Linked DNA regions of Homo sapiens: regions 2, 3, 4 and 5 are each linked to region 1. Evidence: fine-mapped expression QTL. A gene starts in region 1. Each other region holds a variant in brackets. All regions are shown on one strand. Distances are from middle to middle.

Region 1 (5,104 bases):
GGTGCCTAGCTTCCTATGAGTTTATGACTTATGGTTATTCATCTTAATAACTAAGTGGCTTTGCCAGGTAAAATATTAAGGCACCATTGCCATTATGACCTTGTCTTCCATGATCTCATTGGCAGCTGGTGTTGCCATGACAACTTGGCTAGAGGAACTGGTATGAGCTTCAGTGGAAGGCGATATGAACACTGGTTGTGTGTGTGTGTGTGTGTGTATATGTGTGTAAGAGAATACAGACTTCTCATCATGTGTATCTGTTGTGCAGAAAGCCATGGGTTTCCACACCTTCTGCTTCTCCTTCCATTTTGGTCAAAATTAGCCTCAGGGATCTAAATCAATTGGAATGGAACTCTGGGGGATGATTTCTTTGTTTGGCTTTTTGAGTGGCAAATTGGAACCAGGAACACAGAAGAAATATTTTAGTGGCTTTCCACCCCTGGGAAATGAAGCAACCCTATCCACTTTGACGTTTCTCTTAAAAGCACCCTGGGCCTAACTTATTTAGCATCCATATGTAATTTTCTTAGTAGATGTATAGAAAGTTGGAGCTGAAAGGAGCCCTGGGTGGCGCCTAGTCTGGCCCCCTTTCTGTTCAGATGAGAAAAACTGAGGCCCAGAGGCTAAGTGACTTGCCCCCATTTAGTATGATGCAGCAGGGAAGGTGTGGGCTCTGGAATCATACTACCTGGTCTCAAAGCCTGGCTCCACCATGTATTTACTGTGACCTGAGTCAAGTTATGTAACCTCTCTCAGTTTGCTCATCTGTAAAATGGGGATAATAGCAGGAGTAACCATATGGATCAGTGTGAGAATTAAGTGCTATAATCCACAATGCTTGGCACACTTTAAGCCTTCTATACATTTTATCACATGGGTCACACAGGGAATAACTGGCAGAAATTGGACTAGAATCCAGCTCAGCTGACTCCAGTTAAACGGGAACATTCCCTTGTGAACTCCATACTGCCCTTTGTTTGTGTGTGTGTGTTACTTGGCATCCAGGTGAGAGTGGAAGCTCATTTTGAGACAGGGTTTGGCTTTTCCTAAGACCTCCTCTTTAAATGTATATAATGTATACACTAACTACCTCGTGGATGCTTGATTTGAGGCTAACACTGGACACCTCATGCCCTCATGGAAATTTCTTGAATGTACACTGCATGGCTGTAAGCGCAGGGGAAAAAGGAATGAGAAGAAAACTTAAGGAGGGAAACCAACACTTCTGATCACTTTGTATGAAACTAAGCTCTTTATAATGAATGCCTTTAATCACAACCACCCCACGAGGTGCGCATATTCATTCCCATTTTACATATTAAGAAACCAAGACTGAGGGTGTATGCAGCATGCTCAGGTTCACCTGGCTAATGCAGAGAGCTGGGTTTGCAGCCACACTTTTACTTCAAGGGGCTGCTGACACCCTCCAAGAGACTTGGTGGTTCAAAACTATTTCTCATCCCCTCTCTGCGAGCCAAAAGCCTATTTCCTGAGGTGTTCAGAGAGATTCAGAGCAGATTGACACCTTTTCCATCACTGACACAAAGAGGAGGGTATAAAAAACAGTATGTAGCCCTGGGGATCTAAAATATTTTCCCAGCCAAATCGGACAGGCATTGAAAGTCACACAGGCTGGGGTGGTTTTACAAAATGCCACTTGTTTAAATTTCCTTTCATCACTCTGTCAGGAATAACAGCAACGTAGTGGAGCCTCAGAGTCCTGTTGAGAGGGGCGAGCTGTTCCGGGGAAATTTATTTCAAAAGTTATTCTGAAGTAAAAACTTGCCCACTGTGGAGTGAGGTTGGACAGTGATCCTATATCCTAGGTAATGAGGCTATTAAAGCAGCTGGTCTCTTCAGCTTATGTAAGTGGGGCCCAGTCTCTGGGCGACTTGGGTAAACCGGTATAGAATTTAACAGGGTGACTAGGAGTGACAGCAGCAGTAAGACCCCCATTTCTAATGTGGCGTTAGGGCTGGAGGTTAGATGTGGACAGGGGTGTCTGAGTCCTACATAATGGGGCTGGATGACTAGTCTGAGATCTGGGTTCACGCAGCAACCACACTCTTTTTTACTCACACTGTTCATCTGGGCTTGGGTGGAAAGAGGCTGATGAGGATTTGGGGGAAATCAAGGGGCTCTCCCTGGCATTGCATGAAGTCGCAGAACCAGTGGCAAAAGTCCAACTTTGGAGACAATTACTTCTCGGGTGGGAGCCCCAGCCCTGCCTCTTGCCTGCGATGTCGCCAATCTGACTGCGCTTGCTGGAGACGGGAAATGTGGCACGGCACTGCATCCCCCAACACGTGTAGAAACTTAGAGAATGCCAGTTATTAAAATAACCCTTATGATAACACCAATTCGATGCAGAAGTCTTTTAAATATCATAAGCCTCGTCGTTTTATTCCACATGGTTTTCTAGGTAACCAAATTCTAGGAGGTGCGTTGCAGGGCCATCTTCGCATCCCGGCCATGCCCAGCAGGACGGTGTTCTCTAAACGGCGCTGATGCCCGATTTCGACCCCGAGGAGACTGCGGACCTCGACTGCGGCCCCCACCAGGGCCGGTCCGCCCTCACTCCACCCTCTGAGGCTGGGGCGGAGTCGACCGGCCGGCCCCGAGACCCCTTGCCTTACCGGTGGAGCAAGGAACCGGAAGCCGCGGCTCTTACATAACCGGGATGATGTCAGGGCGGGCGACTCCCGGGGGGCGGGACCAGGGCGGAGGCCGCGCCGGGAGCGCGGTGGGGCTAGGCGTGGGGCGCTCCCGGCATGTCCCTGTACCGCAGCGTCGTGTGGTTCGCCAAGGGGCTGCGCGAGTACACCAAGTAAGGCGGCGCGGCGGGGCGCGGGGCCCCGGGCTGTCACGTGGCCCGCCTCGGCGCGGGCGAGCAGGGTTGGCGGGGACGCGCCCGCGGCTCCTTCGCCCTCTCGCTGGGCCGACTAAGCGTGTCCAGAACGACGGGTGCGCCCGCCGTCTAGCGACCCACGGCTGGGCGTGGGGCAGTCGCCAGACTCCAGCCGCTCAATGCCCGCGACCGAGACTGGCGCCCGAGGGGCGGGGCTGTGGCGCGCCCAAGCCCAGGGCCGTCCCACTGACGTCAGGCGGCCCCGGCGCCAAGGAGCCTCTTGGGCGGCACCTCGGCGCCCCGCTGGGTGTGCTCGTGGAAGTGTCTTCGTGGTGCTGCTGGCGGCGTCAGATAGGGCTGGATCTAAATCGCTAGCTAAGGCTCTGTCCTAGTGCCTTTGGGTGTGTTTCCTTTAAAAAGATGCAGCACCTGGACTGCGACCTTTGGCTCCAGCTGGAACTTTCCAGCCAGTGTGTGCTTCTGGGGAACGGTGCGTGGTGGTTTCGTCGCCCCGTGACCACGCTCAGTGTGCCCTAGTTGGCTCTCCACCTCATTGTGGTTTTAAGAGGTGACAGGTTCCTGTGACGGAGGAGAGATGGAGGTTTTCTCTTAGAATTGATTAGGCTAACCGCTGGTTCTCAACCCTGTCTGCACATCAGAATCACTGGGCGAGAATTAAAAGTACCCAGTTTTCAGGCCCCATCCCTACAGATTCTGATTTAGTGGATCTGCACAGGGGCCTGGACTGGCATTTCATCCAAATGCCCCAGGTGATTCTCACCTCTGAGAGGCTTCTCCCTGCACTGGGGCTTTATCAGTTCCCACGGCAACCTGGCCAGCACTCCTAGGGGAGGTAGGAGTTGCAACTCCCTGCTCTTCACCCCACATCGTTTTGGAGAAGGTTCAGCTCTGTCTCAGGAGCCCCTGCTGCAGAGAATGGTGGGGAGTGTAGTCGTGAGCCCTGTCCCACAGTTTTTAGGGGAATACAGTGGCAGCCTCTTTCTTTCAAAGGGGTGTCCTCTGGCAATGACCATTAATTGCTGGATCTTTCCACATTACACAGCATGAAAGCTTAAGTCAGTTTCCAACCAGGGGTGGGCCCCAAGGAAAGCAGACTGTAAAAATTTCTCCCAGGACTCTTTCGCTCTGATTTCCCCACCTTGAGGGAAGGTAGAAGTGAGGCCAAGGGGCCCAATCCACCACAGATTGGTGGGGGAAGGGAGGGGAGGGGAAGGCAGTTGGCAAAGTTAGATGGGTTTTCCTGCTGTTGTGGATTTAGTGAATAGGAGAGAAAAACAACAACCTTGTTTTGACTTCAGTGTGAGAGCGCGGAGTTAGAGTTTACAACGTTTCTCTTGGCACAAGGATTTTTATAAAGCCTCCCTATATTGGGCTCCTAAGGCAGGAGGATCTAATCACTGTTTCCTAAACTTTGCTGAACCTAATAATTCCCTGGGGCAGTTTTAAACAGACTCCTAAACCCTGGGCAAGTGTGGATGGGTCCTAAGCAAATTTCATATTTGGGTAAATTGAGGGTGTGGGGAGACACAGATACCTGCCAGCTTCCTCCTCCCCATCCCTGTCACCTCAGCTTCAGGAAACAGTAAGTACAAATGTCCTCTCAGCTTGAGTCAAAATCACTGGCAAGGCACATGAAACCACAGGTTGCCAAGCAATCACTTCTGAGTCAGTAGGCAGGGCATTTCCAACAGGTTTCCAGATGATGCTGATGCAGCTTGTCTGGGGACTGCCCTTTGGCACCGAGGCTGGGTGTTGAAGAAGATCACCTACCTTCTGGTGACCTTGGGAAAGTCGTGTGTGTGTGTGTGTGTGTGTGTGTGTGTGTGTGTGTGTGTGTGTGTGAAAAATAGAGACTGATATCTAGAGACTGATTTCTAGAGTGAAAATAAAATGCTTCCCCAATAAGGGGCAGAGTACATAAAAGACAAGTCTTATTAACAACAGATCGGACCAGGATGGAATTCTTGTATGGAAGGCAAGATCCAAGGCAGAGGACAGAGGGCGGGGACATGTCCTGCAGGCCAGGCTGGTACTGCCCGCTTGGCAGCACTCCCAGTCTGGAGTTTGAGGAAGAGGTTCAACCCAGAGGAGCCAGCCTCAGCAAACATTCGTCTCTAATACGGATCAGTGTGGAGCCCAGAGGCTAATGTCCCCTCTGACTGGGTATCACAGAGAAAAGCCTGTCAGCTTCCTGCCCCTGGAGAAGGGCTCTTCAGGCCTGTTCCCTGTGGACTG
Region 2 (5,104 bases), 46 kb before region 1:
GGAAAAGTAGATCAAACTGGAAAATTGCTCAAAGATGAAGACAATGACAACATAATCATCACTGCTCATGGCCTCAGTCTCTGTATTGAAAGAAGAGAACTGTTTCTAGCCACACCAGCCATAAAGGAATCATGCCCTGGAAGCAGGCTTTGTGAAAGAGGAGACTTTGTCATGTTCACTGCTATATCCACAGTGCCCGTTTTATAAAGAGCTTCTGAAATTGAGCAGACAAAGACCACCAACCCAATAGATAAATGGCCAAAGGATATGAACAAATTGGTTGCAGACAAATGCAAATGGCTCTTAAATATATGAAAAAAATTTTCAACCATACTTATAATTAGAGAAATGCAATTGATTAAGAAAACTGTTGCATTTCTCATCGATCAAACTGGCAAAAATCCAAAAGTTTGACAATACACTCTGTTAGCAGAGTTGGAAGGAAATAGGCCCTGCTATACAGTGCTGGTAGGAATACAAACTGTTATAACCCCCATGTATGGGGATTTGTCAGAAACTAAGAAAATTACACGTGAATTTGCCTTTTCACCCAGCAATTCCATGTCTAGAAATTTATCCAGCAGGTACATGTACACAATTACAGAAAGATACTTGTGTAGGTTATTCATCGGAGTATTGTTTGTAATTCCAAAAGATTGGAAGTAACTCAATTTTGTAGCAATAGGGAACCACTTACATAAACTGGCACATCCACAGAGCAAAGTACTATGCAGCTGTAAAAAAATATATAACAGGCTGGGCGCGGTGGCTCACGCCTGTAATCCCAGCACTTTGGGATGCTGAGGCAGGCAGATCACAAGGTCAGGAGTTTGAGAGCAGCCTGGCCAACATAGTGAAACCCTGTCTTTACTAAAAATACAAAAATTAGTTGGACATGGTGGCGTGCGCCTGTAGTCCCAGTTACTCAGGAGGCTGAGGCAGGAGAATTGCTTGAACCCAGGAGGTGGAGGTTGTGGTGAGCCGAGGACATGCCACTGCACTCTAGCCTGGGTAACAGAACAAGACTCCGTCTCAAAAAAAAAAAAAAAAAAAAGGTAAAACAAAGGTCTTTTCGTGCTGATTTGGAGAGATTCCCAGGATACATTATTAAGTGAAAAAAAAAAATGACTACAAATGTAGGGCGTCTTCTTCTTCTTCTTCTTCTTGTTCTTCTTCTTCCTCCTCCTCCTCCTCCTCTTCCTCTTCTTCCTCTTCTTCCTCTTCTTTTTTTTTGGTTACGGAGGAGGCAAGATGTCACTCTGTAGTTCAGGTTGGAGTGCAGTGACATGATCATGGCTCACTGCACCTTCCACATCTCAGGCTCAAGTGATCCTCCCACCTCAGTCCCCCAAGTAGCTGGGACTATCAGTGCACGCCACCACACCCAGCTAATTTTTGTACTTTTTGTAGAGACAGGGTCTTGCTGTGTTGCCCAGCTGGTCTCAAACTCCTAGGCCCAAGGGATCTGCCTGCCTTGGCCTCCCAAAGTGCTGTAGTACCTCTTCTTTTAAACAAATCTTAAAATTGGAAATGAACACATGAACATAACCATACATCAAATATATACCATACCCCTACAGAGGAAGGATTATGTCACATGATCCTAGGGCACACTTCTTTGACTCACCCTCCTTAGCGGGATATATTCTAAAGAGGAGAAGAACTTCAAATAAATTTGAAACTTCAACTTGGTCATTTTATTTTTGTAGAAGTGCTGTACTGTTACTTTGAAACATTTCTTTCTATTGTATGACAAAGCATATAAATACGTTAATAATGTTAGGATTCAAAATTTTCAGTATAAAAGAAAAGGGATACAATGATAAAAATCAAATAAATTACACAAAAGAGTATAGTATTAGATTTAAATTTTAAATATCAAAAAGTACTCATGATTTTAAAAATAGATATGGTATAGCTCTGTTTATTGAAATGGACCGGTAGCAACAATATCACAGAAGCAATGCATACCCCCTATCCCCACCTGAGAAAAAATTATTGGTAAAATAAGAATTAAAATATTATTTTAAATTTATTATAAATCAGCAAACATTATACTTGATGATAAAAGACTCAGGGCTTACTGTGTGCCCATAATTGCTCATTGATGTAAGTGTACCAGCTGACTGGTGTCTCCATTCTGACTGGGCAGGGCCCTTGTCTAGTTTTTACATTCTTTAAAAATATCCCAGAAGACATTATTAAAATAAAGAAGTGGATAGCATTCACCGTTTTGTAAATAATAACCAATTTATTAGGCAAAGAAATAAAACAAGTATAAATATTATAAGGAAATCATCATTACTTAATAGGTGATTTGGCTTAACACCTAATAAAGAGGGGGAGAGAGAAACAACGTAAAATTGTAGTTGATAATAGCAGTAGAATGCCAGTTCTCCCCAAATTTGTGTATAAACTTAATGCAATCTCAAACAAAATTACAGAAGGGTTTTTCTTTCCCCAGGGGAACATTTCAAGTAGCTGGGACTACAGGCACACACCCCTACACCCAGCTAATTTTTTATTTTGTTTTTTAGTCTCAATACATTGCCTGAGCTGGTCTCGAACTCCTGGTGTCAAGCAATCCTCCTGTCTTGGCCTTCTAAAGTGCTCGGTCACGGGCATGAGCCACTGTGTCCATCCTGTTTCTGAAAGAGACAGCCCAGGTCCCACTGAGAGACCACAGACGGCAGGAAGCGATGGGGAGGGAGGGCAAAGAGGCGCCAGTAGGTGGCGTTGTGCAT[T/C]TTCCCAACCCTGACACTTGCCCCTGGGAACTTAGACCCTCGGCCTTGGAGCCCAGGTTAAGGACAGGAAGACAGGAGAGTTATTCCTTTCCTCACACCCACTCCAAGGCGCCACTTCAGACCTGAGTAAAAGGGTTGAGGCGGGAAACCTGACAGCGGCGTGTCCGCGCATCCTCCCACAGGGCCTCTGCGACCGCTGAAATTGGGGCTGAAGAGACCCCGGGATTTTCTGGAGCATGTTGGACAACTGCCCGGTTCCACAGGGCCCTTAGAATGTTAGGCCTTGACTCCCCCAGCTTCTCAGATCCAGGAGTTTGTTTGCTTATTAAACTGTGCTAAAATACACATAACATAAAACTCAACATCTTAACCACTGAAAAATGTACAGCTCAGTAGTGTTAAGAATATTCACATTGTTGTGCAACCAATCTTTTTCATCTTGCAAAACTGAAATGCCACATCCCTTAAACAGCAGCTCCCCGTGCTCCCCTTCCTCCAGCCCCTGGTGACCACCAGTCTACTTCCATGTCTATGACTATTCTGTGTGCCTCACGTGAGTGGAGTCATACAGCATTCGCCTTTCTGTGGCTGGCTTATTTCTTAGCATAATGGCCTCAAGTTTGCAGCATGGGTCAGGGGTGCCTGTCATTTAACTCTTCTTCTTCCTGACTGTGAACTAGTTGTGGGACCATGCATTCTGTTTCTCTTTTTCTTAAATTGTCCTCAGGAAAATTAAAATGCTGGGAAAAGTCAAAAGGAAAATGAAAACTTATATTGAAATGCTTTTTGACTCAGGTAGAAGTCGAAGTGAGGGACCCTGAAGGTTTTCTCCCAAATTAGGAAGCCGTCAGGATGAATAGATGGTAAATATAGAAACGGTGACTCAAATAGAAGAGTGACATCAGAATGGAAAACTTCCAAAGAAAGCATGAAAAGAATTAGGATGTTTACATAGAACTAATTTGTTGGGGAATAACACACAAGCAAAGACGAAGACAAAGACAAACTTTTGTGCAATCTTGGGGAAGAGTGAGAGTGAACACTCATCAGTGTCCCTTGGCTTTCTGATTGCTCCTTTTGGAGGTGCACAACCTGGTCTTTGGGCAACTTTAGCATCTCCCTTCATTTCTACAGCTTCCATCAAGAAGTCAGGCCTACCCTCATTAACTCACAGTTGCCTTTGTAATTAAACTCAGGCACGTGCTCATTCACTCACTACTCTTTTGCATCAAAATTCCTTATAGGATACATGGATTTTATTAAGTAATCTTTTTATTCACAGTATCTGGCTTGGAGTCAGCAGTATTCATTCAATGAATGAATGAACTCACTTTTATGAGGAGAACCACCTCAACTAAAGACAAGCATTTAAAAATTTATACTCTGAATTCAACTTTCACTCAATTCTACTATCATCTCCCCTAATGTGCCCTTTATTCATATGGCAATAGTGGAGTGGTGCCATATGTGGACTCTATCACGTGGCCTGAATTGAAGTTCATTACACACTTAGTAGCCATATGCCTTTAATCTCTGTACCTTATGCTACTCATCTGTGAAGTGGGGGTATTAATCGCACCTACTTTGCTTTGGGCAGCATTTCCAGTGGTGGTCTTCCACTCACATCTCTAGGGTTAGCAACTGCTTCCACTGTCAGTTGCTAATCTCTGGGTTACTCCACCACGACATCGTGCATGACTTTTCAGCTCTTCCGTGGCTCTTGTAACTAATTCCCCATATCAGATTCCCCGTTTTTCTTAACTGATAGAGCTATTATTACTATCATTTATCATTACCTTTGGAGTCTCATAATCACTTTCCAAAGACTCCTACTTTCTCCCCCACAAAAATCTCCTATTTCTGTACTCATAAGTACAGTTGTCTGTTGGCAGAAAAATATTCTTTGATGTTTTGCTGCATGTTTGGGGACATGTGGAAAAGCTCCTGAGTGACCTGCCATTGTTTTCTCCCTTCCTGAACTCCCAGGAAGACTGCCTCATCACCTGAAATTTTGTTTGTTTTGATGTCAGGGCTAAAATGTGCTCAAAAAAGACTGCTGCCCCTTTTTGGCCACGTCCAGGCCAGGCTTATGGTCACCGTGTGCTCCCAGACCCCCACCACTTTGGCAGGGAAGCCTTAAGACTCTGACCTCACTGCTCACAGTCACTCTGCTTCCACTCACTCAGTGTGAGATAAGAGAAGATTCAAGTACCGTCATGTATCACTGAACCATGGGTATATGTTCTGAGAAATGTGACATTCGGCAATTTTGCCATTGTGTGAAGGTCATAGAATGTATTCACACAAACTCACATAGTATAGCCTACTACACACCCAGTGGTCCCCAATCTTTTTGGCAC
Region 3 (5,104 bases), 33 kb before region 1:
GAGAGATTGTGGGCTTTGAAGGCACAAAGTCCAGGTTTCAGATAGAGTCTCGGAGGCCTCATTTCAAACCCCAGTTCTACCACTTACTAGCTGGGTGACTTTGAGCAAACAAATTGATCTGAATCTTGGTTTTCTCTGTAAAATGGGGCATACGAACTGAGGAGACTAAATTAGGTAACATGTGGAAGACCTTGGCAGGGCGCTGGTGATATGCCTCTGGTTGGGGACTGACTATCTCTGGTCACACTGCTTCCTGCCATAAAGGTCCTGTTGACATAAAGCCAAGTTTTGAGCATGACATGTCCTAGAAGGACAGTGATGGGAAATAAGAACCCCGAGTCTCAGCCCAACCACCGTGCTTGTGTGCTAGCAGTGGATCAGCTGCAGAGAGAAGCTGCGGGCTGCATGGCTCCTGCCTGCAGGCCCATGCTGACGCTGGCGGTGGAGTGACTTGCCTGCTATGAGCCACAGCTCTGGTCAAAGCAAGCTCTCCTTCTGTCATCATGACCATCTCTGTCCTCAGACCACAAATCTTCCCCATCACGGCCTGTTCCCCCTGCCCTAAGCCCTAGTTCACCCAGGAGGGCCTGCAGGTAGTGCTGCTAAAATGCTGTGGTCCCTTGGTTTGCAAACCCCTGCAGTATGAGGAACAAGGACCTTGTTAAATCGTGCTTTTAAATGGAGCCGCGGCTACTCTGGACAGGTTCCTGGGGAGACTTTTGTATGAAGTAAGGATGCCTGCCCCAGATCCCGCCTGGATCAGCCAGCCCCCATGGAGGCCTTACTCCCAAGCAATGACGTGGTGGGAAGTGGTGGAACTACGCACACCCAGCCTCAGGAACAAAGTGACTCCCTTCCTCTCCTAGTGTCTTTACGGGGCTACCTCATTTCACCGGGCAGGAAAATTTGCCGTCTTGATGAGCTGGAGTTTTTTTGTGGATTTAAAATGTATATGGCTGTTTCTTCCAAGGAAGGGAAGCCCTTTCTCACAGTGTCAACCAACTTGCTCAGACCACAGCAGGTCCACAGGGGAGCCGGGGTGGTGCTCCAGGCCGCTCGGGTCTCCACCCAGGCTGCTCTGGTCAAGTCCATGGTTCCTCTTCCGCTTGGACCCTGGGGAGTGCAGCAGCTGCGTCAGGAAGTGAGGGCGCCCTTGCTCTGTACCTGGAGCCATACCTGGATCAAGTTTGGGTTCTGCCAGTTGCCAGCTCTGGCCTTAGGGTGAATCTTAAGCTCTCAGGGTCTCTAAGGCGCCATCTGTAAAACAGAGTCAGTAACACTTCCCAGATAGGATTGTTGTGGGATTAAATATGAGATGACCTATTTAAAGAGTTAACACAACGCCTGGCTGCAGCCATTGCTCAGCAAGTGAGAGCTGTTACCATCTCCCCCTCCAGGCCTGTGTCTTCCTGGCTGGTATCACTGGGCAAGCCTCTTAACCTCTCTGAGCTTGGTTCTCTCATTTGTGGAATAGGGGGTCTTTTTCTCAGCCCCGCTAACCACTAACAAGGCCACACCTGACACTGGCACCCAGGCCACCCGGGCTGACTGAGACCACCCTGCAGGCCACCACTGACATGCACAGAGAGGGTTGGTTATTGGTGCTGAGTAAATCCTTCCACCATCCTTTCTAATGAATTATTTTTGATCCTCAGAACTTTGTCAGCGAGCAAGAACAATGCCAGGAGGTCTGGAGAAAACGTGTCATCAGTGCATTTCTAAAATCGCCAGCAATGGTGAGTCACAACTCTGAGAAATGCCCTGGTTTTGTAGGATTGAGACCTCTGGGATCACCCGATGAGCTAAAGCTGGAGTGGATCATATGAGTGGGCTGTGCTTGGTATGGGGTGGCCCCAGGGTGGTAGAGCTGGGGAAGACAGTGTCCGGCCCTCGGTTGGCTGCTTTCTCCTTCCATTCCTTACCAATTCATCTTTAGTTTTCCATAGTTCACTGTATGTGTTTTCCATGTAATATGTGTTTGAAAAATATGCATGTGAACGGAGTCACTGCTACAATCAGTGTATGATGGCAGCCGTGCTGGGCAACACGGCAGGGCAATGTGACACCTTGGACCTGGGTAGCTTTCCCTTACTCCTACCTCAACCTGTCTCCTTACTAAATTGGATATTCCCCCACTATCACCTGCTGGGGTCCTTTCTGTCCAGAGGGGCTGGACCATATTACAGAAGACCCAGTCTGTCTTGTGTTTGGAATATCCCAAAATCAGATCCCAGGCCTTGGGGGTCCCTGGGATGAAAGCTTTTACATCATGGTGAGATGTATGGTCTAACTTTTACAGATGAAATGTGGATAAAGGGAACATTGTGGGAAGCCTTAAGCAACTCATCTCCAGGCACTAATATCAGGAAGCTGCAGTCAGTGGGTAGTGGCGGACTAAGGTGGAGGGTCAGCAGAACAAGGGGCTGACAGATGGGTGCCTGGGCACCTTTCCTTACCTGTACTTACCATGTCCTAGCACACACTGTCCACCTCCCACTTCTCCTCCCATGACGTTTCCTGCACTGCTGCATGCCAGCACCTCCAGCAGTGCCTGACACACAGTAGGAGCTCAATAAATAGGCACTGGCTGACTAAGCAGGTAAATGAGTGAAGAGCCACCTCCCAGATACAACTGACCTTCTCCATTCGCTGATGGGCCCAGTGCCCATCTCATTCTCCTAACGCACAGCCCTGACATTTTACTCCCAGGGACAGCTCTAAGGGCCACCCTCCTTTCATCCCTGGAGCACACCTACTGCTGTGAGGGCCAGAGTGGGACAGTGGTGCTGGAGTCTCTGCCCAGGGCCTCTGATGCTCTGGCAGGATGAAAACTCATAGGTTTACTGCCGGCAGGGAAAGGAGACACCATCAGCTATATTGTTGCTCTACATCTTCGGGAAATTAGTTACCACCACCTCCCCCAACACACATCCTACCTGTTTATGCAACAGAAGTGCTGATGGCAACACCAGGTTGGCAAGAGAGGAAGTAT[C/T]ATGCTCAGGGTTTCCCAGAAAAAGGGATGTTTCCTGGCTGCACTGTAAATCTGCAGGTCAAGGTCTAGGCCAACCTTGGCCTAATGATGGCCTCCTTGATTGTTGAGATTTCTGCCCTTGTTGTATGAATAACTCCGTCTTCAGCCAGCACAATGGCAAGGCCTCCTAAGTGTTCTTGCTGCCTCTTGCCCATCCCCTCAGCACCTCCTCTGGGGAGGTCCTTCACTGCACAGTGACTCCCCATTCCTGCAGAATAAAACAGAAGCGTTTGCTCTCTTGTGAAACCCTTTGTGATTGAGTCCCCGTTTACCTCTTGAATCACTCTTTCTTCTTCCCTTCTCACTCTGGAAAATCCAGCCAGACAAAAACATTTTAGGTTTCCTAGGAACACCAGCTTCTGTTTTCCCCCTGGGCCTTCCAACATGTGTTTCTTTGCCTAGACTTCTACTTCCTCCCACCTGCCCCCTCAGATAAAGGTTGGATCAGGCAAGAATCATCAATAGACACTAAATCTAAGAGGAAATTTTGATGACAAGCAGTACTTGGTTGCAAGGGAGGAATAAAATAGTAATCATACAGTGGAGAAAGTGGGCCACACTTTGGGGTTTAAAGTGAACATTACCAGTGAGGGACAGGTGGCCGTCACCTATGCAGTAATCCAGCCAAGAATGCACAGCCTTTGTCCAAACACAAGGGAACATCTGTCAAATACAAGGTGAAGAATGTTCTACTAAAAAACAGCAGAGAGGACTGTATTCTTCAAAAATGTCAACATCCTAGAAAACAAAACAAAAAGGGCTGATGAGAATGTTCTAGATTTGAGGGAGGTCTCTTAATCCACTTTGTGCTGCTATAACAGAATACCACAGACTAGGTAGTTTATAACAAACAGAAACTTGTTGGCTTATCATTCTGGAAGCTGTGAAGTCCAAGAATGAGAGGCCGGCAGCTGGGGAGGGCCTTCTTGTGTCATCCCATGGAGGAAGGCAGCACGTGGGGGAGAGAAAAAGGGCTGAACTCCCCCTTTTATAATGAACCCACTCCAGTGATGACATGAACTCATTTACTCTGCTCCCAGGGCCTGATCACCTCTCATTTAAGCTCCACTTCCCAACACGTTTGCATTGGGGATTGAGTTTCCAACACATGAACTTTGGGGGACACATTCAAACCATAGCAGGCAGAGGAGACATGACAACAAATGCAATACTTCAGCCTAGACTGGACCCAAAGGCTTTATTAGGTCATCAACATTGGAATATGGATGGCAGATTAAAATATTGTATCAATGTAAATTTAAGAAGCTGCGACTGTACTAAGGTACTATATTAATAAGAGAATATCCCCAGGAAATGCACACTGGGATTATTTCCAACTAAAAAATTTAAAAACTTAAAAAGCATGCAGAGGGAAACCTGAGTGGCAAGTATCTGAATGTTTGCTCTATTACTCTTTGTATTTGTTTGAATGTTTGAGAATTTTCATAATTAATATGTCTTTTAGAATTTAGGCTGGGAAAAATTGGCCTCCTTGGCCTGATCCCAGACCTGATAAAATAGTACATAGATGCAAATGCATATACTGTAGTGTTTTCCTTTCAAATGACTTCTAAATTTACTTCTTTCTGGTTTTCTACATTTTCCACATTTCCTATAAAGCTACATATTTATGTAATTAGAAAATAAAAGTTTTGGCCGGGTGCAGTGGCTCACGCCTGTAATCCCAGCACTTTGGGAGACCGAGGCGAGCAGATCACGACGTCAAGAGATCGAGACCATCCTGCAACATGGTGAAACCCCGTCTCTAGCAAAAATACAAAAAAAATTAGCTGGGTGTGGTGGTGCACGACTGTATTCCCAGCTACTCGGGAGGCTGGGGCAGGAGAATCGCTTGAACCCGGTAGGTGGAGGTTGCAGTGAGCCGAGATTGCACCACTGCACACTCTAGCCTGGTGACAGAGTGAGACTCCGTCTCAAAAAAAAAAAAAGAAAGAAAATAAAAGTTTTATTTTTATTTTATGTTTTAAGAACAATCTTCAGATATCCCCCTTAGATTGGTTGGTGCTGTCCCTATCCACATGTGGAGCTGCTAAGTGGTGGCGGCCTCAGAGG
Region 4 (5,104 bases), 22 kb after region 1:
TTAACATCCAGATTCCTTAACCTGGAATTAAAGTCCTTTGTTACAGACCCCACCTCCTGTCCAAATGTATTTCCCATTATTTTCCTATATGGACCCTGTAGCAGTCAGCCTCTTATTTTGGAACTTGGCACTGGCAGTGCTACCTCTATGCTTTTGTCCTGCTGCTCCCCTGCCTGGAATGTCCCCTACCTGGCTAACTCATACTGCTCCTCTGTGACTCTGCTGGACACATTCCTTCCCCTGAGCCTGGTCAGATGCTCCCCTCTGGGCTCCCATGGACCCCTCTGTGTGCCTGTTGTGGCTCAGCAGAAGCCACCTGCTGATGGGTGGGTTTCTTGCCCAGAGCATGGATCCTTGAGGGCAGAATCCACCTGGCTCTCAGGAGGCGCTCAGTCACACTGGCTGCACTGAGCAGGGTTGTAGTCCAGTTCCTCCAGTTACCTGACTCTGTACAAATGTCCTCAACCTCCCCACGCCTTACTTTCCCATTCTGTAAAATGGGGATGATGATACTTTTATAGGCCAGAAGTGAAGATTTAAAAAAGACTTGTAAGATATTTAACCAAAGAGAAATAACCTGTGTGCACACAAAAATACGCACACGAATGTTTATAGCAGCTTATTCATAATCGCCCCAAACAGGAGTCAGCCCAGATATATGGTGAATAGATAAACTGGCACTCCCATTCAATGGAATGCAATTCAGCAATAAAAAGGCACAAAATGTCAATGTACAAAACAATGTGAGTGACTCTTAGATGCACCAGCCAAAGTGAAGCCAGACCCCAAGGGGTGCAGACTGTGATTCCATTTATAGGACATTCTGGAAAAGGCAACCTAGGGGGCTAAGAAGAGGTCAGAGGCTGCAGGGGCGGGATTAGGGAGTGGCTAGGGGCAGGAGGAGGGTGTGACGACAGAGGGAATGTGAGTGGCTGTGAGGGAACATCTGGGGTGATAGAGTTCTTCCGAATCACACCACAGTCTAATGCGTAGTTACATGACTGCATCTGTCACAGTTCAGAACTGTGTACACACACACACGCATGCACAGATTTTACTTTATGTTAAAACATTATATATATATTATATCAACAAGAAAAAAGAAAGCATTGTAACTTTCAGCTCAATGTCTGGCATGTAGTGAGTCTGTTTCATCCTAAGAAGCATATTATTCATTATGATTGTTTCTTGGTGCTCGTCCTCAGTAACAAGTGAGCTGCTGTTGGAGAGACTGTGTCCTCAGCTTGAGGTGGGGGCAGATTTCAGGCCACAGGGGAGGCTGGTGGAGTCTGGAGCTCCTAGGAACCCCATTTCCCCTCGACCACTAGAAGGGCCCCAGGCGAGGCTCTTGGTTTAAACTGTACCGGGGAGCCGTCCTAAGGAGAGAGAATGGACAAGCTCAGAAGTCAGAGATCATTTTTCCCATTGATTTTCGGTTTTCTGCCAGCCATGGAAGCTGCTTTTGATGAGACACAAAAGCTTCCCAGACTGAGCCTCCTGGGCCGCGCCGTGCACCCCGCTCTGGGCCGCTCTTCCTTCTCGGCAGCTCCATGGTGGTGCAGAGTCCTCGCCAGGCTCCGTGGTGTCTGCCCTTCTAGGTCTTCTGGCCTAGGAGCACCGGCCCCAAATCCAAGTCCTCCTGTGGGCCAGGACCTTACCTAATTACCTGGCTGGGATTTGGTGAGTGTTTTAAAGGTGTGCTGGTAACAAACATTCATTTGAGGAGTTTTAGAAACACAATCCCAAATAAGCACCTTTGTCCTTTTAATGAGCTGAGGCCCAAGTGCCCATACTCGGGTTCTCCCTGCAGTACAGCAGGTTCTTTCATACATCTCAGTGAAGCACACAGGACCCCCATACTGCGGCTGTGACAGCAGGGGGTGACATCAGTCACCTGGCTAGGCCCTGGAGAAAAGCCTGCACAGCACTTCCTCCACCAGCCTCTCATGGTCCCCGAGTCCCGGGCATCCTGCAGCTCACTCCAGTCGGCTTATCTCCCTGACCTTTGGCCACTCTCATGCTGAGGTCACCTATGACCCTGATATTCCTGGTTCTGGAGAGCGCACCTCTACCACATCCATGGGCAGCACTGGGCACAGCTGTCCGTGCTCCCATAGCGCGATGGCCTCCAAGCCACCTGTGATTCCACCCTCGGAGGTTGGCTCCTTCTCAACCTCCTTAGCCAGCTGCAGCGTGTCTGCGGGGACTTTAAATGTTGGCATCCCTCCCAGACCAATCCTGTGCCCTCCTTTCTCCTCCCACACTCTCTGTTGGGATCTCA[T/A]CCTTGCCCCAATGCCATCATGTGCCTGGCTCCCAAGGGCCCCCTTCCAGCCCAGATCTCTCTTCTGAGTTCCAGGTCCAGATCTCAAACACCTCAGACTCAGCATGTCCAAAACTGAAGCCTTAGTCCCTCACCGGTCTGCTCCTGTAATGGGCCCCACCCCAGTGGCCAGCATCATCTCCGTCACCGCTTGTCCTTGACACCCCCTCACTTCTCATATCCAAGCAGTGATCGTGCCTTTGGACTCTCTGCACAACGTGTCCCCAGTCTGTCTCCTGCTCTTCAGCTCCACTGCGACCACTCTGCCCAAGCCACTGCAGTCACTGTGATGTAGTGGAGTAATATGGGGCCCTAGGTGCCCTCCTGTACCCACCTCCCGAACAGAGGCTTCCTCCATAAGGCTGACAGAGTGGTCCTTATGCATGCAAATCTGTTTCCTTCTGCTTAAAGTCACCCCTTGGTTTCATATGAGGTGCGTGTCTCTGGCGTTGCCCTTGGAGGCTGCAGCCTCACATTGCCCTACCCTCTACCATGCTCACTCGGTTGCAGCTGCCTTGGTTGCACTCTCCAGCCTCAGGGCCTCTTTGCACAGGCTGTGCTCCATACCTGCAGCCCTTCTTCCCATCCCCAGCCCTCTACCTGCCTGTTCCCTCCTCTTCTCCAGGTCTTAGCTGAAATGTCCCTTCACAGTTCATGCAGAGCCTGACACCTCCCCCGCCGTCCCACCCCCATGTGCCCATAGCACTCTAGCACTTACCTCGACCGTGAGTGTAGGTTAGTCACGTAGTAACATGTGTAATGCCTGGGAATGCCTGGCAGAGGGCAGGGCGCCCTCAGTCTGTATCCTGAGTACTTAGCACTGGGTCTGGCACTCAGTGGGCCCTTGATAAATACTTGTTCAGTGCGTGGAACTGGATAAGGTGGCGGGGATGAGTTGAGGTTGGGGGCAAAGGGGATAGGCCTGACTCACGCTAACCACTCTCTGAGCCCAAACCAAGAATACCCCATAGGAAGCCAGTGCCTTGAATGTCTTCTAAGAGCTCATTTCCTCTGGGACTCTGTCCTGCTGTCTTCTCCAGGTAATGTAATCTTTGAAATCATCTTTATATAATGTGTGAGATTAGTGTGTGAGCCCCCCAGGCTCACTATGTTTTTGTTACTGTACAAAAGAAGTACCAAATGGTGTTCACCAGTGCAGCTGTCTGCTCCTTTAAAATTAACACCAGAAACTTCCCAGGGACAGCAAGACAATGGTTTTCTCCGTCAGATAGTAGCGTGGATGGAAGCACATAACCCATTGGCTAGTAACCAAAGTAGCTTTAATTCAAGGTGGCTTTGAAGGTTTCTTAATAGAAATGCCAATCAGTTTTCCTATGCTAAATTTACAAATTGCAATATATTTTTCTCATTAAAAATAATTACCTTTAATGCTATTAAAATGTCATACTCAAGATATATAATTTCAGAAATACTATGAATTTAGTATTTGGAGGATGCAGACATGGGTTTCGCAGTGCTCTAAGAACACGCGGCATCTCTCCTTCAGCATCACCTGTGCTCCACACAGTTTTACCTCTCAATTAGTTGATAGAGAGATTTGCTTCAAGTCATGTACCCATGTAATAAAAGTTCTTGTTGCCATATTTAGAAGACTATGTCCAACATAAATTCCACTGCCAGATCTCTTTCTCGTAATGAACCGCCATCGACATAATGAGTTCCTTGGAAGAAAGGCATTGTGTAAATTTAAAATACTAATGAGTCATAATGATAATGAATTATTTTCCTTGTTACTGGGAGCAGGACTAACCTTGGGCAACTTTTCCAGTAGCTGAAGGTGCCTTCCCTCCTCCCAGGCCTGCCCTCCCGTGGGATTCTGTACTCTAAAATATCTCTCTTTTTCTCTCATCAAAACCTTGAATCACCCAAATGTCCCTGATATTAATAGGAAGTCTTAGAGGAAAGGAAGTTGTTGACCTGGTTCACACGAAGATATGAATGACTAAAAGCACCCATTAACCATTTATAACAATGCCCCTCCTGTGTCTGTCCAGAGACATTCTTATTTATTTATTTATTTATTTATTTATTTTTGAGATGGAATCTCACTCTCTTGCCCAAGCTGGAATGCAGTGGCACAATCTCAGCTCATTGCAACCTCCGCCTCCTGGGTTCAAGCGATTCTCCTGCCTCAGCCTCCCGAGTAGCTGGGACTACAGGTGTGGGCCACCATGCCCGACTAATTTTTGTATTTTTAGTAGAGATGGGGTTTCGCCACGTTAGCCAGGCTGGTCTTGAACTCCTGACCTCAAGTGATCCGCCCGCCTCGGCCTCCCAAAGTGCTGGGATTACAGGTGTGAGCCACCACGCCCAGGAGACATTCTTATTTTAAAGGGTAGCTGGTTATCCCGGGAGAACTGGTGGACTTCCTAACTGAGACAAGCCAAGTGTCTTAGGTTTTGTGTGGTCAGAAGTAACAAGAACCCACACAGGAAGACTAAAGAAAAAAATAATTTATTAGTGGGCTACAAGGGCAGCCCTCACAGAACTCAATGGCAGAGACACAGCTGGGCTTTGGGAGGGCCAGGGACAGGACAGGAGAACCTGTCAGCAGCTAAGGTGACCTTCTGCTTCTCTGGGACTGTTGTCCATGGACTCTCATCACAACTGCTTCGTTCACTCTCCGTCTCTGCTTTTCCTTGCATCTGGGTCACATATGGCTGCCACTGAGTCACCTGTCCTCCATTCAGCATTCCATTTTCACACTCTTCTAGGGAGAGTTTGGGTGGGACAGCTTGGACCAGGTGTCACCCCCCTGGCCCA
Region 5 (5,104 bases), 560 kb after region 1:
TGCTCCCTGAGAACTGTGCAGTGCACAACCTGCACAACCATAGGCAGCAGCCCTCTGAAGACCCATAAGCCCATAAGATGAGAACTTTGTGACTGAGTGGGGAAACACAAACATCAAAAAGTAAAATTAAATCTGATATATGCCTAAAAGGAATACAACGGAATAGTAACTTGGGGTGGGGGCTAGATTCTAAAGTCACTGTGAAGCAAAGGTTATCTATAGACACGATTAACACTGAAAGTCTCCTAAATTTCCAATAAAGTACTAACTTGTAACAAGACAAGATGGCCAGATAGATGTTTCTTTAGTTGAACACCACATAAAATAACCATTTTGCTGCAGGGCCATGTATAAGAGAATAGTCTGTTTCTTTAAACACTGAACCCTTACTCATCAAACCCTGCCCTTCACTCTACAAGAGGCTTTTGGGAACCTGAGAGGCTTCTGGAAGTTAAGGATGACTAAGGTAAGAGCGGAGTCAAGTTTCAGCTTTCCACATTCATGGAGTAGAATGGCAAGTGGAATCCTTTAAATTGTCTTCCCTCTTTTTCCTTCCTGCTGGCTGAGCATGTATTCTCAAATTTGTATGAGTTAAATATGAGCATAGAGCAATTCCAACTTACTACATATGACAAAAGAAGGAGGGCTCTGCAGAAGGCTTCCTGGAGGAGGCACCAAATGAACTGGGTCTTGAAGGGTAAAGGCAGAACACATCCTCTTGCTCATGATGCCCTCAAATGCTGAGGAGATTAGGAAGTGTTTACGAAGGTATAGAACTGTGCAAAAAACAAGCACATTTGGAAGGGGGCCGTGGGGAATTCTGGGACATGGCAACAGATGCAGCTGGAAAAATGGATTAGAACCAAGCTGTATGGGGCCTCAGCTCAATTCAGTAGTTGATAAGGGGCAAAGGAAGGTTTTATGAAGGGGTATCAGGATCAAGTTGGGGGAAAGTTGGCTATAGGCAAAATAAGGAGTTAGAAGACTAGTGAAGAGTCCAGACAGGAGATGACAAGGACTTGGCAGAGTAGGAGATTATGTTAGTGGCTTCAGTTCCTTATCCTATTATGTATCCTTACTTTCTGCCATGTGACTGTGTAGCTCCTCCCACTAAATGGGTGGCGTATTTCCCCACCCTTTGATTTAGGATGAGACTATATGCCTAGCTTTGGGCAGGAGAAAGAGACAGCAGTGGCATGTGTTTTGGCTTGCCTCCCTGTGCTCCCAACATTTCCATAAGAACATACTTGGGGGAGCCCACCGGTCCCAGTAAGGGGATGAGACACATGGAACAGACCCACTCTAGCTGAGCCTGCCCTAGATCAGCCAAACTTCACACCCAAAGACGCAGGGCAAGAGCCACTCAGGTGAGCATGGTCTAGATCAGCTGATCCAAGACAAATGGGAAATAATAATGATGGTTGTTTCAAGCCTGAAACTGAGACTGGAGGTGGCTGTTACCCAGCAGTACTTACAGATCCAGGACAGTCAGTCAAGTGGGTAAATAGAAGAGGCATGGATTCACAGGCTATAAAGATGCAAATGGCAGGCCAGGAAGCCCACAGGCCTGGTGGGTGGGGTGTAGGAAAAGTTGGAGAGGAGTATATACCCTGATGTTTCCAGCTTGAACAAGTGATCTGATGTGATGTTTAACTGAAATAGGAAATAGAGGAAGAAGGGCAGATTTGTGGGAAAAGACAGAAAGTTCCACCTTGACCACTTGGCTTGAGATGCCCAAATGACTTCCAGGAGAGATGTCCTTTGGCAACTGGATCTTTGTGTTGCTTAGGTGAAGGGCTGAATTTAAGGATGGGCCAGTTACTTTCAGATCATATTCTCATTTGTATGCAGTTATCTGATAAGCGTGTGCCCCCATATAGACCTGAATCATGAAAATTCATCATGATGGCTAGGAACACAATCAGAATTCAGAGATAATTCTGGCCCTTTTCTTTGCTTGCCCTTTCTGCCTGCCTGGCTTCTTTCGGTTTGGTTGAACATTCATGACACGATCGGCAGAAGTACAGTTGACGCAAAAGTAGTAAAGCTGCGATGAAATTTTCTGCCAGTGAGTAACTCCAGTAAAAGTAGGAGAAAATACCACATCATCTAAAT[G/A]GATTTCACTTTTCTCTGGTGCCTTGAACTCCCAACAGTGGAGACATGCGACTTTGCTAAGCATCAGTGAATGCTCCATGTAAATGGAAAAGGACAGAAAGGCTTTGAACGAGGGGTCAAGAATTTTACCTGAAAAAAATGACAGATGATTTTAATGAGGGGGGAAAAACACCATGCGAAGTAAAGGAAAGTCTGGGAAAAGAAGCTGCCTGGGCCACCAGGAAGTCCCTTCAAGGTCCTAATCCCACCCCCAGGTGTGCATGTGGCCAGGTACACAGGGTGACATGTTAGCTAACATGGGTGCTTTCTCCATGTTCTACATGTATGAACTCATTTAATCCTTACAACCACCATAGAAAGGGGAGGTGCTATGATTGTCCCCATTTTAGAAACCAGGAAATTGAGGCACAGGAGGTGAAGTAGCCTGCCAAGGTCACACAGAGTATGAGCACTAGCTCCAGTATCCGAGTTCCGTGTGCACCATCAGCCCAGGCTCTGCAGAGAAGTGTGCTCGCCTCTCCACTGTATCCCTTTCACAGCAGAGTGGCCAGCTGCCATTCTCCATCCATGTGTGGCCACGGCAGCTCCCGCCTGGCCCCTCTGCACGGCTCTCCCACCTCATTCTGACTGGCTTCATTCCCAGCCACCAGCCAACAGCTTCATTTCTTGGACACCCACTTACATTTCTTTCCTCTGGCCCCAGGTCTTGGAGGAAGAATAAGCTAGAAACTGCCCTCCCTGTTGGCACATGCCCAGGTCTTCACATCTCAGCAGTGCCCTCGAGGGCAACTCAAACAGGCCAGCACCACAGGTGGGTGCACAAGTGAAAGGAATGCATAACAGTCACCCAAGAAAGCCTATAGCATGGCGTGAGAGGCTTGGGTGTGAAGAGGCCCGGGAGAAGGTGGCTTCTGAGACTCTCCAGTGGAGCTGTCAGGGCGCTCAGCCCTGTGCCATCTCTATCAGTTACACAAAGGTTTCCCTGAGAGCAGTAACAAAGACCATGCTGAAGTCTGCATGGATGAGTGAATGTTTACAGCTCTGCAGAAGGGCGAAATGCCCGGCCTCAGAGCAGGGGGGTGAGCTGAAAGGCATTCCACCAAGTACCAGCTCGCCTGGCAGTTTGGGAGGCAGCCAAGAGCAGGCGAGCCAGGATGACGAAGACCCGACCCCCAGAGCCCCCTCTGCACTGCCTGAACCAGGGACATGTAAGTGGCTAAGACCCTGCCCCAGAAGAGCTAAGGAGAATGAGCAGTGGCATTAGCATGCTCTGGCCATCACTAGCACGTACCCGCTGCACATGACCTGAAAACACAAGCAAAGAACACAGAACGCAGCTTCAAGCTGTCATCAGGTGTTAGAGTTACACCCCCCCCCACCCCACGAGAAACATGCCTCTGTGGAGCTGGATAGGAAACCAAGCATTTGAGGGGAAGGACAGAAAATGTGAATAATTAATTGCCACGAAAAGTCTCTATGCCTCCCTGGAGAAACACAGACGACATGACTGTGGGATGTGCTCTGCCTTTATCATATCTATTACATGTCTTCTCAAAGGACCTAGCGAGCACCTGTTGAATTATGGTAAAACACAGACCAGAACCAAACAGAGCAGTGGCACAGACTGCCCCAAGGCTGGTGGGAGGATGGGAGCTGCTAGCACACCATTAACAAGGCTTTCAAATTAGTTTGTGTTTTCCTAAGGAGAAGGGAGATTCTTTTTCATTTGATTATAGACAATTAGGCTTTCCTTTGATAACACAAAATGAAAACAGTGTTAAAGAAAGCAGTGTACAAGCTCAGGCCTTCTATGATGCAGAAAGTGTACTATTAGCCTGGGCATTTGTTATATATATATTTTTTCCAACATTTTACCTCTCCTGTGTATCCTGTTTCTGGCCATTTAAATTTAACAGAAAATTAATTTAGACAATAGCAACCATTTATTATGCTCTTATTATTTGCCAGACATTGTCCTACAAGCTTTATGTATACTATCTCATTTAATCTTTCATTTAAAGCAACACTATGATAGATGAACTACTAACTGACCTGCTCAAGACCATTTGCCTGGAGAACAGCAAGGGCTGTCTGAACCCCGGATCTGTGCTCCTCACCACTATGTCCTCTCACTACTCAAGGGCACAATCCTCGTGATACAGGAGATGGAAAGAAATTATTTAGGCACATAGTGAGTATAAAAGAGCCCTTAGCAGAATTTTGCTTTTAACAAAAAAGCAGCCCCCAAATCATTTCTTTTCTAACAAAGAGCAGTCTGAAAATTCGAGCTGTAGATGTAGATAAGCAAGCTGGAAGCTTGCACAGATGAATGCCGGAAGCTGCGCCAATAGAAAAGGGCTACCTGAGGGCCAGGTATGTTCAACCTGGAGGCTCCATCTTCCCTTTTCTTTGTCACCGTGTGTACAGTAAAGGAACAGGCAACATGGCATCCGCCAGGTGGAGAATCCATCTGCATAATAAAAGATTAAAGTGGGGGGCGGCCAGATTTTCACATGCTGTGCAAATGGCACACCTAGTCCTAACCAGTTTTTTGCATCTTATGCAAATGGCACACCTGGTCCGACCAATCTTTTGTGCCCTATGTAAATCAGACACCACCTCCTCAAGCTCATCTACACAACCCTAAGTATTTTGTGGCAGACCAGACACCTGCTTGGGAGCCCTCTCTCTGCAGGAGATAGCCTTTCTCTTTCTTTCGCTTATTAAAGCTCTGCTCTTAATCTCACTCCTTGTGTGTCCACATCCTTGATTTCCTTGGCAGAAGACAACAAACCTCGGGTATTATCCCAGATGAACGATGCCACTTCACTTGGAATCATCGCGTTGGTTTTTCTGCCCCAAATTGGCTGGGGCTCTGAAATCATGGCTTAGCTCCTTCACCCACCTTAGGTGGGAGAGCCTGCTGTGAATGGGCTGGCTGTTTCGCCTGGGTGGGCATCCTCAGCTGGAGTCTTCGGAAGAAGAGGGC

Alleles and levels. Positions count from the first base shown, and alleles are read on the strand shown. Sizes are in standard deviations (SD) of each study's normalised expression. Not every link is listed here.
For the expression in pancreas of the gene that starts at base 2,718 in region 1, T is the low allele of the variant in region 4 and A is the other (moderate effect, 0.47 SD a copy in GTEx).

The links.
Region 2: its variant is fine-mapped to the expression of DHRS12 in whole blood (TOPMed, PIP above 0.99).
Region 3: its variant is fine-mapped to the expression of DHRS12 in whole blood (TOPMed, PIP above 0.99).
Region 4: its variant is fine-mapped to the expression of DHRS12 in pancreas (GTEx, PIP above 0.99).
Region 5: its variant is fine-mapped to the expression of DHRS12 in lung (TOPMed, PIP 0.93).

What each region holds. Positions count from the first base shown.
Region 1 is chr13:51,801,777-51,806,880 of GRCh38, reverse strand. It overlaps DHRS12 (dehydrogenase/reductase 12), which reads left to right and starts at 2,718. Exons shown (of 9, transcript NM_001377533.1): 1 at 2,718-2,827. It overlaps LOC107984561 (a long non-coding RNA gene), which reads right to left and starts at 3,045. Exons shown (of 2, transcript XR_007063805.1): 1 at 2,080-3,045. RefSeq lists enhancers at 1,838-1,967, 4,353-4,402 and a silencer at 2,518-3,157.
Region 2 is chr13:51,847,473-51,852,576 of GRCh38, reverse strand. It overlaps a transcript of TMEM272 not described here. Among named protein-coding and RNA genes, the nearest start is that of TMEM272, 4.8 kb to the right of the region's middle. RefSeq lists an enhancer at 2,899-3,399. The variant T/C (reference allele first, on the strand shown) is at 2,745.
Region 3 is chr13:51,835,105-51,840,208 of GRCh38, reverse strand. TMEM272 (transmembrane protein 272) reads left to right here. Exons shown (of 5, transcript NM_001351003.2): 2 at 1,656-1,736. The coding sequence starts at 1,679. Among named protein-coding and RNA genes, the nearest start is that of TMEM272, 7.5 kb to the left of the region's middle. The variant C/T (reference allele first, on the strand shown) is at 2,993.
Region 4 is chr13:51,779,448-51,784,551 of GRCh38, reverse strand. All of the region lies in intron 4 of DHRS12 (dehydrogenase/reductase 12), which reads left to right. Among named protein-coding and RNA genes, the nearest start is that of DHRS12, 22 kb to the left of the region's middle. RefSeq lists a silencer at 3,005-3,054. The variant T/A (reference allele first, on the strand shown) is at 2,282.
Region 5 is chr13:51,244,793-51,249,896 of GRCh38, reverse strand. All of the region lies in intron 2 of FAM124A (family with sequence similarity 124 member A), which reads right to left. Among named protein-coding and RNA genes, the nearest start is that of FAM124A, 25 kb to the right of the region's middle. The variant G/A (reference allele first, on the strand shown) is at 2,116.